Linked DNA regions of Homo sapiens. The gene in region 3 interacts genetically with the main gene of each other region. Each region holds a gene or a part of one and is shown on either strand. Other genes may lie near its edges.

What was found.
Region 1: changes in STK11 (region 3) and BRIP1 together harm fitness more than expected from each alone (negative genetic interaction), as found in Homo sapiens cells (one large-scale study listed by BioGRID).
Region 2: changes in STK11 (region 3) and SOX18 together harm fitness more than expected from each alone (negative genetic interaction), as found in Homo sapiens cells (one large-scale study listed by BioGRID).

Annotation. Positions count from the first base shown.
Region 1 is NC_000017.11:61,800,928-61,804,576, forward strand, and holds part of BRIP1 (Fanconi anemia group J protein), read right to left. Parts: intron 548-3,649; coding exon 326-547; intron 1-325. UniProt on the Homo sapiens protein: DNA-dependent ATPase and 5'-3' DNA helicase required for the maintenance of chromosomal stability. Acts late in the Fanconi anemia pathway, after FANCD2 ubiquitination.
Region 2 is NC_000020.11:64,047,427-64,051,175, forward strand, and holds SOX18 (transcription factor SOX-18), read right to left. Parts: upstream 2,214-3,749; 5' UTR 2,091-2,213; coding exon 1,733-2,090; intron 1,537-1,732; coding exon 740-1,536; 3' UTR 156-739; downstream 1-155.
Region 3 is NC_000019.10:1,222,629-1,225,854, forward strand, and holds part of STK11 (serine/threonine-protein kinase STK11), read left to right. Parts: intron 1-356; coding exon 357-544; intron 545-1,009; coding exon of another isoform or gene 1,010-1,116; exon of another isoform or gene 1,117-1,247; intron 1,248-3,226. UniProt on the Homo sapiens protein: Tumor suppressor serine/threonine-protein kinase that controls the activity of AMP-activated protein kinase (AMPK) family members, thereby playing a role in various processes such as cell metabolism, cell polarity, apoptosis and DNA damage response.

The DNA.
Region 1 (3,649 bases), on a different chromosome or scaffold from region 3:
CCCACATAAGTTCTTCAAAACATAGTTTTTTCAGAGAAATGTTTCTAAATAATTCTTTTTGAATATTCATAAATGCAAAGAGAAATCCTGCTGTAATCCCACTTCAGTCACTATGTTCCTTAAAACTGCTTGTTATTTTGGAAATTAAAATGAGTGGGTTGATTTTAACCCATGTTAGGATATGTTTTCAGTACTCTAATATGTTTACACAAATTTATTTACATAAATTAAAGCAAAAAAAATTAAAACATCTAAAAGCTTTTACATTCAACATTTACATCTCCATGAGTAGGAAGAAGGTTCTCATTTTTACACATATACTCACACTTTCCCTTATTTGTGCATCTAGAAGATAGTTGTAGGGACAAAATATGATGTCAGCATCTTGTATTAGTTCTCGGGCTGTGTAATATGGACAGGCCTTTAGTTTCTTCCCCAGGCTGACAAGTTCTTCTATATCCCAGGCTTTGCACATCCCTTGGAAAGTCTGTAATGTGTGCTGATCACTAATTTTATGAACTCCATGATAAAAATAGCAGGATTTTCCCTAGAAACAAATATGCATAACTGAAATGTGAACCAATATTAGCATAGAAGGAATAAAATAAGCTTATCTCAGAATTTGAGGAACATCATTAAAGCCACAAGGCTAAGATTTTACTGGCTACGCCACCACACCTGGCTAATTTTTTGTCTTTTTTGAGACAATACCATAGCTACAATCACAACGAAGTCTGGTTGACTCAGACTTAGATAGAAGTCCAAATCGGAAGAGCTCCAAATACCCTAAATTAACTTGAAAAAAATTTCTTTTAAATATGTTTGTTATGCCTTTTTTTTTCTGATTAAACTGATGTTAGGCATGAAATACTTCTGAAAGGATTCACAAAACAATGGTATCACTGGTTGCTTCCAAGGATGAGAATTAAGTGACTGGGCACAGGAGTGAGAGATTTTTCTCTGTAGACCCTTTTGTACCTTTTCAACTTTGAGCCATGTGATAGTATTTCTTATTCAAATATAAATAAGAAGGAAGGAAGGTAAGTAGGTAGGTTGGAATGTCCTAAGGGGAAAAAAAGAAAGTAAGAGTATTCACTACAAAATATTCAGGAGTACCAAAAAAAGCCTAAATTATCCATAATTCTATTACACAAAGAATGCACTAGAAACATTTTGGTGTATTTCATTTCATATTTCTTCTATACATGTGTATATAAGGATATCTCTACAATGTGACCCAATATTAAAATAACAAGAACAAGCAAGGCACGATGACAGGTGTGAGCACTTTGGGAGGCTTAGGCAAAAGGACTGTTTTAGGTGAGGAGTTTGATACCAGCCTGGGCAATGTAGCAAAACCCTGTCTCTACAAAAAATAAAAAATTTTCTAGGATTGGTGGCGTACATCAATGGTCCTAGCTACTCAGGAAGCTGAGGCAGGAGGATCACTTCAGCCCAGGAGTTCGAGGATGCAGTGAGCCATGATCAAGCCACTGCACTCCGGCCTGGATGACAAAACAAAGCCCTATCTCTAAATAGTAATAAAAACAAGAACAAAGCAAATGTTCCCCAGGCATTGAGGATTATTAACAATTCAGCCACAATAAACAAAAATTTTTATAAAGCATATTCCCTTTGTTTTCTTCTGTCTAGCGTATTAAAAATCATACAAGGAAAATCTTGACATCACTAAGCATCTTTTCGTTGCTGCTCATATATGTACATTGAATTAATGTGCCATAGCTGATGAACCAGTTTTCTTATTACTGGGCTTATAGACTGTTACCAATTTCTGCTTTAGACATAAGGCTGCAGTGAGCATTCTTATGCTGGTTTCTAAATATTTTCTTAGTCTATATTTTTAGAAATGGCATTATGGGATCAGACGCTACAAGGTATTTTTAAGTTTCTTGAAAACATATAGTGAAATTATCCTCCAGAAAGTATATATTGCTTTGCATTACCCTTTTCCCACATCCTTATCAACACTGGTGTTATCTTTTGTTATCTCTATCTTAAAAGTAAAAAATAGAATCTTGTTTTGATTTGTATTTTTTATAGTTTCTAGCAAAGTTTAACATAGTGTTGTATGAATAGTCTAACAAGGTTCAATAGTAATTTGTGTTTCTTCTTTTATGTTATCTACTAATGCCCTTTGCCATTCTATTACCTTTTTTTTTTTCAGAGATGGGAGTCTCACTCTGTCACCTGGGGTGCAGTGGCACGATCCAATCTTGGTTCACTGCAACCTCCGCCTCCCAGGTTCAAGCAATTCTTGTGCCTCAGCCACCAAGTAGCTGGAACCACAAGTGCATCACCACATATGGCTCCTTTTTTGTAGAGACAGGGTTTTGTCATGTTGCTCAGGCTGGTCTTGAACTCCTGAACTCAAGCGATCCGCCTGCCTCGGCCTCCCAAAGTGCTGGGGATTACAGGCATGAGCCACTGCACTCCACCCCATTCTATCACTGGAAATAAAAAAATTTCATTACAGGCTGGGCACAGTGGCTCATGCCTATAATCCCAACATTTTGAGAGGCCAAGGCCGGAGGACTGCATGAGCCTAGGAGTTCAAGACCAGCTGGGCAGCACAGGGAGACTCAATCTCTACAAAAAAACAAAAAAAATTAAACCGCAGTGAGCAGTGACCACGCCACTGCACTCCAGCCTGGGCAACAGAGTGAGATCCTGTCTCAAAAAAAAATACTCATTATGTGCATTAATAAAAAAATAAAATGTTTGATAAAACCCAGCCCTAACAAGTGTCTCATATACTATTAAAAATGTACAAAATTAGAAAAGTATATATATTTTTAGTAGAAGTATAAAATTCTAGTAGTAGAAGTACATAGGCAATTTGTCAAAAAACTACCAAAATTTAAAATTTTACCATTAATGTGAATAGATGTACCCTGTACTGTTAAATAGCCAAAAAATTGAAAATTAACCAAATGTCTACCCATAAGGGACATGTTAAATAAATTATGGTAAATTAATACAAAAACTTTAGCCCTTAAAAATGATTTAGATTTGTCTATGTGTTGATTAGGCTCTCTATGTTAAGTGAGAAAAACATGTTGAATAACGTGTATAGAATGATTAAATTCATGTAAATTGCTTTTTTAAAGAATATGTGCACATACATTATAGCAAATACATTTTTTAAACATTCTGGTAGAATAGATATATAAAATCTTACAGTAGTTACCTTAAAGGATTAAGGAGATGGAGGATCTAGAAAAAGCCTCTCTTTTCATTTTCTAACCACATACATGTACTACTTCTCTTTTTCAATTGTCATTGGAACTAAGTGGTAGAATAATGGGCCACTTTTATTTTAATTAATTCTACTATTTATTTTAAAACGATTTTGAAATAAAAATATTTATTTTTCCTAGTTTGCTATCCTTAACAAAAAACAACCATACATAAAATATATAAATTATATCAGGGATAAAAGACTTTGAGGCAGCTATATACATATGTGTGTGTGTGTGTGTGTGTGTGTGTGTGTGTGTGTATGTGTGTGTACATACACATACATATATACATATGGGTTCAAGCACTTCTCATGCCTCAGCCTCCCAAGTAGCTGGGATTACAAGCACGCATCACCATGCCCAGCTAATTTTTTGTATTTTTAGTAGAG
Region 2 (3,749 bases), on a different chromosome or scaffold from region 3:
CCCACGCTCTCTGGGATGTGTCACGGAAGGATGAAGGAGTGCTATGAGGTTCAAGCTAGGAGTCAGGCTCCCTGGGGGCGATTCGGAGGGAAGGGGCGTCCAGGGCTATTTGGGGAACTGCTTTTCCCTCCCTGCAAACACCACAGATGTCAGTGTGCAGAGGAAAGGCCCGAGGATTTATTGTGGCCTCTCCGTCCGGGGACCCAGCTCCAGGCTCCTCCTTTATAGAAAGCAAACATCTGTATTCCTCACATTGCAAAAGTCTTTGCCACAGTGACGCTTCTGATCACTGAAACTTCTTGGAAGAAAAGTTTAAGAGTTTAATTAAAAATTAAATATATTGTATTAGGTATATTTTTTAAAAGGGCAAAGTAAAAAATATTAATACAATCTGGTTGTAGAAAATACACTGCAAGAAAAGGAGCAGGTGCTTCAAAAATGTAACCCTGGCAACTCTGCCAACAGGTCCTGGGCTCGGGCTTCCTGGAAAAGCCCCGGGACACGTGGGAACTCCAGGCACCCTCGCAGGGGCCCCCCGAGGGCAGGTGGCCCAGAAGCCCAGGAAGGGTGGCCTGGGAGGTGGAACGGGCGCAAGGCCGAGCATCACTGGCTCCTAGGGGGCTGTGACATGGAACCAAACATACACGCGTATGAGAGAGCAGAGCGGCAGCGACGCGGTCGGATCGGTCGCGGGGGCTGCGGGAGGAAGCGCTGCAGGGACCCGGGCGGCGCCGGCGGCCTAGCCGGAGATGCACGCGCTGTAATAGACCGCGCTGCTGGCGTCCGACAGCGCGGAGATCAGGCTGCTCTCCTCTGGGCAGGACATGGCGCGCGGGCCCAGTTTGGCCAGTGCCACGTGGTACGGGAGCCCGGGGGCGTCGGGCCGAGTCCGGCTGCAGTTGAGGTACTGGTCGAACTCGGTGAGGTCCACGTCGGCCCACAGATCGGCGGCGGGCCCCAGCGGCTCGGCGCTCTCCAGCGGCGGGGCCTCGGGCGGCGGCGACAGCGGGCCGGGGTACGGGCCGGGCGTGCCCAGGGTGCCGTAGTACAGGCCAGCGAGCGGCGCCGCGGGGGGCGCGGTCCTGAGCGCCTCCGCCAGGGGAGCCCCGTAGCAACCGCCGGGGTCCCGCGACAACTCGGTGGGCGCGTAGGGCGCGCGGAAGGGCCGCAGCGCGCAGTCCTCGGGCGCCGCGGGCGGTGGGAAGAAGGCAGCCTCGCCGGGCTCCAGGCCGTCCAGAGGCGAGCGCTCGGGCGTGGGCAGCCCCAGGCCGTCGAACTCGGCGCCCAGCGGGGGCAGCTCGCGGAAGGCGCGAGCCGAGCCAGACGCCGCGGGGAAAGGCTCGGGCGGTGGCTGCGGGGGCGCTAATCCCGGGAGCAGGAGGCCGGGCTCCAGCCGCCGGGCCTTGCGCGCCTGCTTCTTGCGGCGCGGCCGGTACTTGTAGTTGGGGTGGTCGCGCAAGTGCTGCACGCGCAGCCGTTCGGCTTCCTCCACGAAGGGCCGCTTCTCCGCCGCGTTCAGCTCCTTCCACGCTTTGCCTGCGGGCCGTGGGCGCCAGTGAGTGGAACGCCGTCGGGCGGGTGGGCGCCGAGCCCTCCGTGCGCCCGGGACGCCCCGCGAGGGTTTGGCGCAGCCCCCGCACCCCGCGGCCCGGGACCCCTGCCCCCCCCGCCCCACCCCGGCCCGAGCCCCCCCCGCCCTCTCCCCCTTCTCTGCCGCCCTCCCGCCGCTCACCCAGCATCTTGCTGAGCACCGCGTTGTGCAGGTCCGGGTTCTGCTGAGCCAGCCGCTTGCGCTCGTCCTTTGCCCACACCATGAAGGCGTTCATGGGCCGCCGGATGCGCGACTCGTCTGCCGCCTGGCGTTCCCCGCGGCCGGCCGGGCTGAGGCCATAGCGCCCCGGCTCGGGGCTGCGCGGGGGACTGCGCTGCGGGCTGGGCGGCGAGGCGGGCGCGGCGGGCGCGGCGAGGGCGGCGGGGCCGGCGGCGAGGCCGCGCGTGTCAGCGGCGGCCCCGTGTCCCGGGGCCCATGCACAGTCGCGGCGGGCGGGCGGGTCGTCCTGTGCGCCGTAGCCGGGCGGCGATCTCTGCATTCCAGCTGGGCGCGGCCTGGGCGGAACGGAGCGCGGGAGCGCGGCGGGCGGGCGGCGGGCACTGGGGAGCCGGGCGCAAGGGCAGGCCAGGCCGGGAGGGCGGATGGCGGTGGGGACGGCGGTGGCCTCGGGCCGGGCGGGCGCCCAGATATAGCGGCTCAGGGCCAATCGGCGGCGGGGCGGGCGGGCGGGGGCGGGTCGGGGCCGCCTCCTCCCCGGGGGCTCCCTTTCTTCTCAGGCCGGGCGGGATTCCGCTGAGGCCTCCCCCGCGCACAGCCCCCCCACCTCCCCCGCGACCTCTCAGAAGGAGAGACCCCCCGGGTGGGAAAGAAAGGGCTGCTGATGAGGGCCGGTGCTGCCAGACTTTCGGAGGCGAGCTGCCACCCACCCACGGAGTCGGACCCCCGGGCAGTAACTGGGGGAGGGCGGCAGTGTCCCGCTGGTTGCCGTTCCCCGCCCCCCGCTGGGAGGCTCCATGGGGAGGAGAGGGCCCTTTTTCACACCAAGTTCTGGGGAGGCTGCCTTCCCAACAGCCGGTAAGTCCTTCCTGGAGTGCAGCGCCTTCAGAAAAGGCCCCGTCTTTGGGGAGGCGCTCTGAGTCCCCAGGGGCGCCCATGCTGGAAACTCTACACCCATGTGTAACCGTCAGCACCAGGGACTTTGAGTGCCTTTATGGGACAAGATGGTCTTCTGTCCTCACTCCCAAACCAACTCTGGCACAAGGCAAAGCTGACACAGGGAGGGAGAGAGCAGAGGCCCTGGACGGAGCCCACAAAGAGAAGGGGGAGCAGGGACGCAGAGGCTGTGGCGTCCTCCCTGCCCCCCAAGGGCCCTTGGGGAAGGGGCTGGGACCCTCAGTGGCTTGCTGGCTCCCCTGCCCAGCCCAGGCCACCGCTGCAGCAAGAGGCAGGGCCTACCTGGGTCCTTCCCACTGGCCCCTCCCTGGACCCTCTGACCTGGGCGGGGGCGGGTTCCGGAGGAGCGTCCAGCTTCCTGAATTTTCACTGTCCCCTTCCTACTCCATCAGGAGGGGATCTGGGCTCCAGAGCTGAGGGTCTCCCTCTGGAGGTCCTCCCCTCCCACTGCCACGCATGGTTCTACTGGAGAAGGGTTGGGTGTCCCCAGCAGCCCTCCAGGCAGGGTCAGAATCTCGCCACCTCGCGGCACATCTCCTCATAGCCTGGAGGCTCCCCAGCTCCCCCCGCCACACTATGCCGGGAGCCCCATGGGTAGAGGCCACAGGTCTTGTGACCCTGAGCCTGTGTGGCCAGAAGCTCTTGGTTCTCTGTCCCTGCCAGCCTCGCTAGGCCACATCCAGCCTGTGTTATGAATGGGGTGGGCCCCACGTGGGCCTTGCAGTGCCCCTTAGAGGCTGTTCCTGAACTGTCCCCAGGGGCACTCCTGCCCTGAGGCCAGCACCCCCACAGGGGCACTCCCACCGAGGGCTGTCGCGGTCGGTGTCCAGCCCTCCCCAAAGCCCCACATCACAGTCTGTCTCGACGCCCATCGTCCCAGCATACGGGGCTGGGTCTCCCAGTCTGGTCTCCAGATCTCCCGTCCCTCCAGTTTGCCCCACGGGCCTAGCACCTCGTTCACAGACACTGAGCCAGTGCTGGCTAATGGGGGGCCCGTGGGGCACCAGGAGGTGCGGCCCCTGGC
Region 3 (3,226 bases):
GACTGGGGCTGCCCCCCGATAGCCTCCTGGGCTGGGATGTGCTCAGGGCCCCCCAGACCCCCTTCTGGCCTTTGCTGGCTTTGCAGCCAGCATCCATCTGGTGGGTGCTGGCTTCTGAGTGCCACCTGGGACACAGGCCTCAGGGTGGAGGGGACATCTGTCAGGCTTGGAGTCAGGTCAGCCTGCCTGCTCCTAGAGGACATGGCTGAGCTTCTGTGGTCACAGCCACCCCTTGCACGGCCTGGTCCCAGCTCCTGAGTGTGTGGCAGGTACCCTGGGCCCAGAGGAGCTGGGTCGGAAAACTGGACCGCCCTGGTGCCAGCCTGACAGGCGCCACTGCTTCTGGGCGTTTGCAGCTGGTTCCGGAAGAAACATCCTCCGGCTGAAGCACCAGTGCCCATCCCACCGAGCCCAGACACCAAGGACCGGTGGCGCAGCATGACTGTGGTGCCGTACTTGGAGGACCTGCACGGCGCGGACGAGGACGAGGACCTCTTCGACATCGAGGATGACATCATCTACACTCAGGACTTCACGGTGCCCGGTGAGTCTGGCGGGGGCCCCTGCCCGGCTCTGCTGACTCGGCCAGGATGTCCCACGGGAGCAGGGTGCCTGCCTGTCTGCAACAAGGACAGCTTCTGCCCTCTGGTGGCCAATCCCACGTCCCCAAAGCCTCCAGCCCACCTGCAGGCTGCCTCCGCCCTGCGGGCCGCTGGGACATGGCTGAAAGGTGTGGGGTCAGCGGGGGCACCAGCCCAGGCCTGTCTGGCCAGGAGGGTTCCTCAGGCGTCTCTCCGGGTGCTGCCCAGCCAGGCACCACCCACCGGCCTTGGCCTGAGTCCCAGCAGGAGCAGGCGGGGGAGCCCCAGGGTCGGGGGAGGGTAGGTGAGAGTCAGGGTGCAGGGTGGCCCCTCAGACAGCTGGCATGAGAGAGGGTCCAGTGGCCCTCCCTCCCGTCGTCCCTGAGGCCTGCCCGCTGGCCCTGATGCCGGCCGCCCTTCTTCCCTAGGTGGCGAGGAGGCGTCTGAGGCAGGGCTTAGAGCGGAGCGCGGCTTGCAGAAGAGCGAGGGCTCAGACCTTTCAGGAGAGGAAGCCTCTCGGCCGGCGCCGCAGTAGTGCCTGAGGAGGAGCTCAGGGCCTTAGCGTAGGGGCGGCCCACATTGGCAGCCAGCCCCTCCCCGCCATGCTCCCGGCTTGGCTGTGTTCGGCCCAGGGCTGGGCCGTGTCATAAAGAGTTTTGCAGTGTATCTGCAGGGTGGATGCTTGCTGCGCTCGGGCTGGAGCCTGAGGGGGCTTTCTGCTTTACTGTTTCAGCGGGAAGTGGTGGGCAGGGGCCGGCCTGAGAAGGGGGGTACGCCAGGCAGGTTGGGATGTGAGGACCCAGTGCACAGGGTCCACCCCCGGGCCCGAGGGTCCCAGAATAGTGGGGGCCCTGCAGAGAGCCCCCCATTAGGTCCCTCAGCACTCCTGGGCCCCTCATCAAACCCCTAGGCTCAGCTCAGTAGCTGGTCCCCAGGAGAGTACAGTGTGGGGGCCCCCGAGAGCACAGTGTATGGGGGTCCCCGGGGGGTACAGTGTCTGGGGGCCCCCCAGGAGGATGCAGCATGTGGGGGCCCCCCAGGAGGGTACAGCGTGTGTGGGGCCCCCAGGATCACAGGGTCTCAGCTCCTGGGCTCTTGGATTTGCAGCACCACGACCATCGCGTCTGGTCTGTTGGAACGGGAGGTGCTGCTGGGTACCCTGGTCACTAGGGTGTGCTGGGAGGTGGGGGCCCCTCATGGTGCCCATCCTTGGGGCCTGGCTGCAATTTGACCCCAGGCCCAGGGTCTTCTGCCTTTCAGAGCCCTGGTGCCCTGAGACGGGCAGCCAGGCAAATCCCAGGCAGGAGGGCCAGTTAGGGCAGGGCCAGCCCAGGCAGGTTGCGAGAGTCCCTACTGGGACGTGGACCACACGCTGACCCCCACGGCCGCCCCTGCAGGCCAGGATCCCTGAGCCAGGACCCGGCACTGGCTTCCCTCCTGGGGACCCTCAGGCCTGTGTGAGACCTGGGCTGCCCTGGGGTGAGGTGCCTGGGAGGAGAGCAGGGGCTGGGCCACCTTTTTCATGACCCTGCTAAGCCCACTGTGGGTGGTGAGGAGGAGTACCCAGCAGGGGGAAGGGCCGCCAGACCACTCGGCATGGCTGAGGCCTCAGTACTCAGTACTGGGTACTCAGGTGGACGCCCCTCCCACTGCTCAGATGCTGGGGACAGGCTCAACTTCAGGCTTCAGCGTGAGCCCCGTCCCTGACCTGCAGAGCCCCCTTGCGTTGGGGCAGGACAGCCCGGCGCCCTCGGGTCAGGCCATCCTCTGCGCTCTGCCGGGGCTGCTGCATCGGCCTCTGCGTGCCTCCACTTTGGCCTCACGTGTCCCTACCCAGGATGCGGGTCCTGCTGCCAACACCCAGATCCCAGGGAAGGGGCTTGGGCTAGATCCTGGGCACCAGTGCAGACAGGAGTGTGGGGTGGGGCAAGGGCCCAGTGGCGGCTGTGCCCGCTGATGCAGAGCTGGGGCACCTTGTCCACAGGGTCTGCCCCACCAGAGACGGGCTGGGCCCAAGCTCAGACCTATGGGTGCAATTGGTGCCTCCTCACCAAGGTCTTTTTTATCTTTTTTTTTTTTTGGAGACAGAGTCTTGCTCTGTCGCCCAGGCTGGAGTGCTGTGGTGCGATCTCGGCTCACTGCAACCTCCACCTCCCGGATTCAAGCAATTCTGCCTCAGCCTCCTGAGTAGCTGGGATTACAAGTGCGCGCCAGCATGCCCGGCTAATTTTTGTATGTTTAGTAGAGACGGGGGTTTCACCATGTTGGTCAGGCTGGTCTCAAACTCCTAACCTCATGATCTGCCCACCTCGGCCTCCCAAAGTGCTGGGATTACAAGCGTGAGCCACCGCGACCGGCCCAAGGTGCTTTTTTAAAGCTAGTGACTTCCTGTGCACATGGGGTGGGTGTGTGGCAAGTTCTGGAAGCTGCTGAGTCAGCCACTGGTCCATTCTCGGAGCTGGGGCTCTGCACTGGGCACATGAGCTCTGGGGCAGCCCGGGGCGGCCTCCCACTGACTTCGCCCGGGAGGGGCCTCGGGGATGGCTCGGCAGCCAGTGTGTTCGCGGAGTCCTCGCCAACCACCACGGCTCCTCGCAGGGACAGTACGTGGGCAGCTTCCTGCACTTTCCCCTGCCATTGTGAGA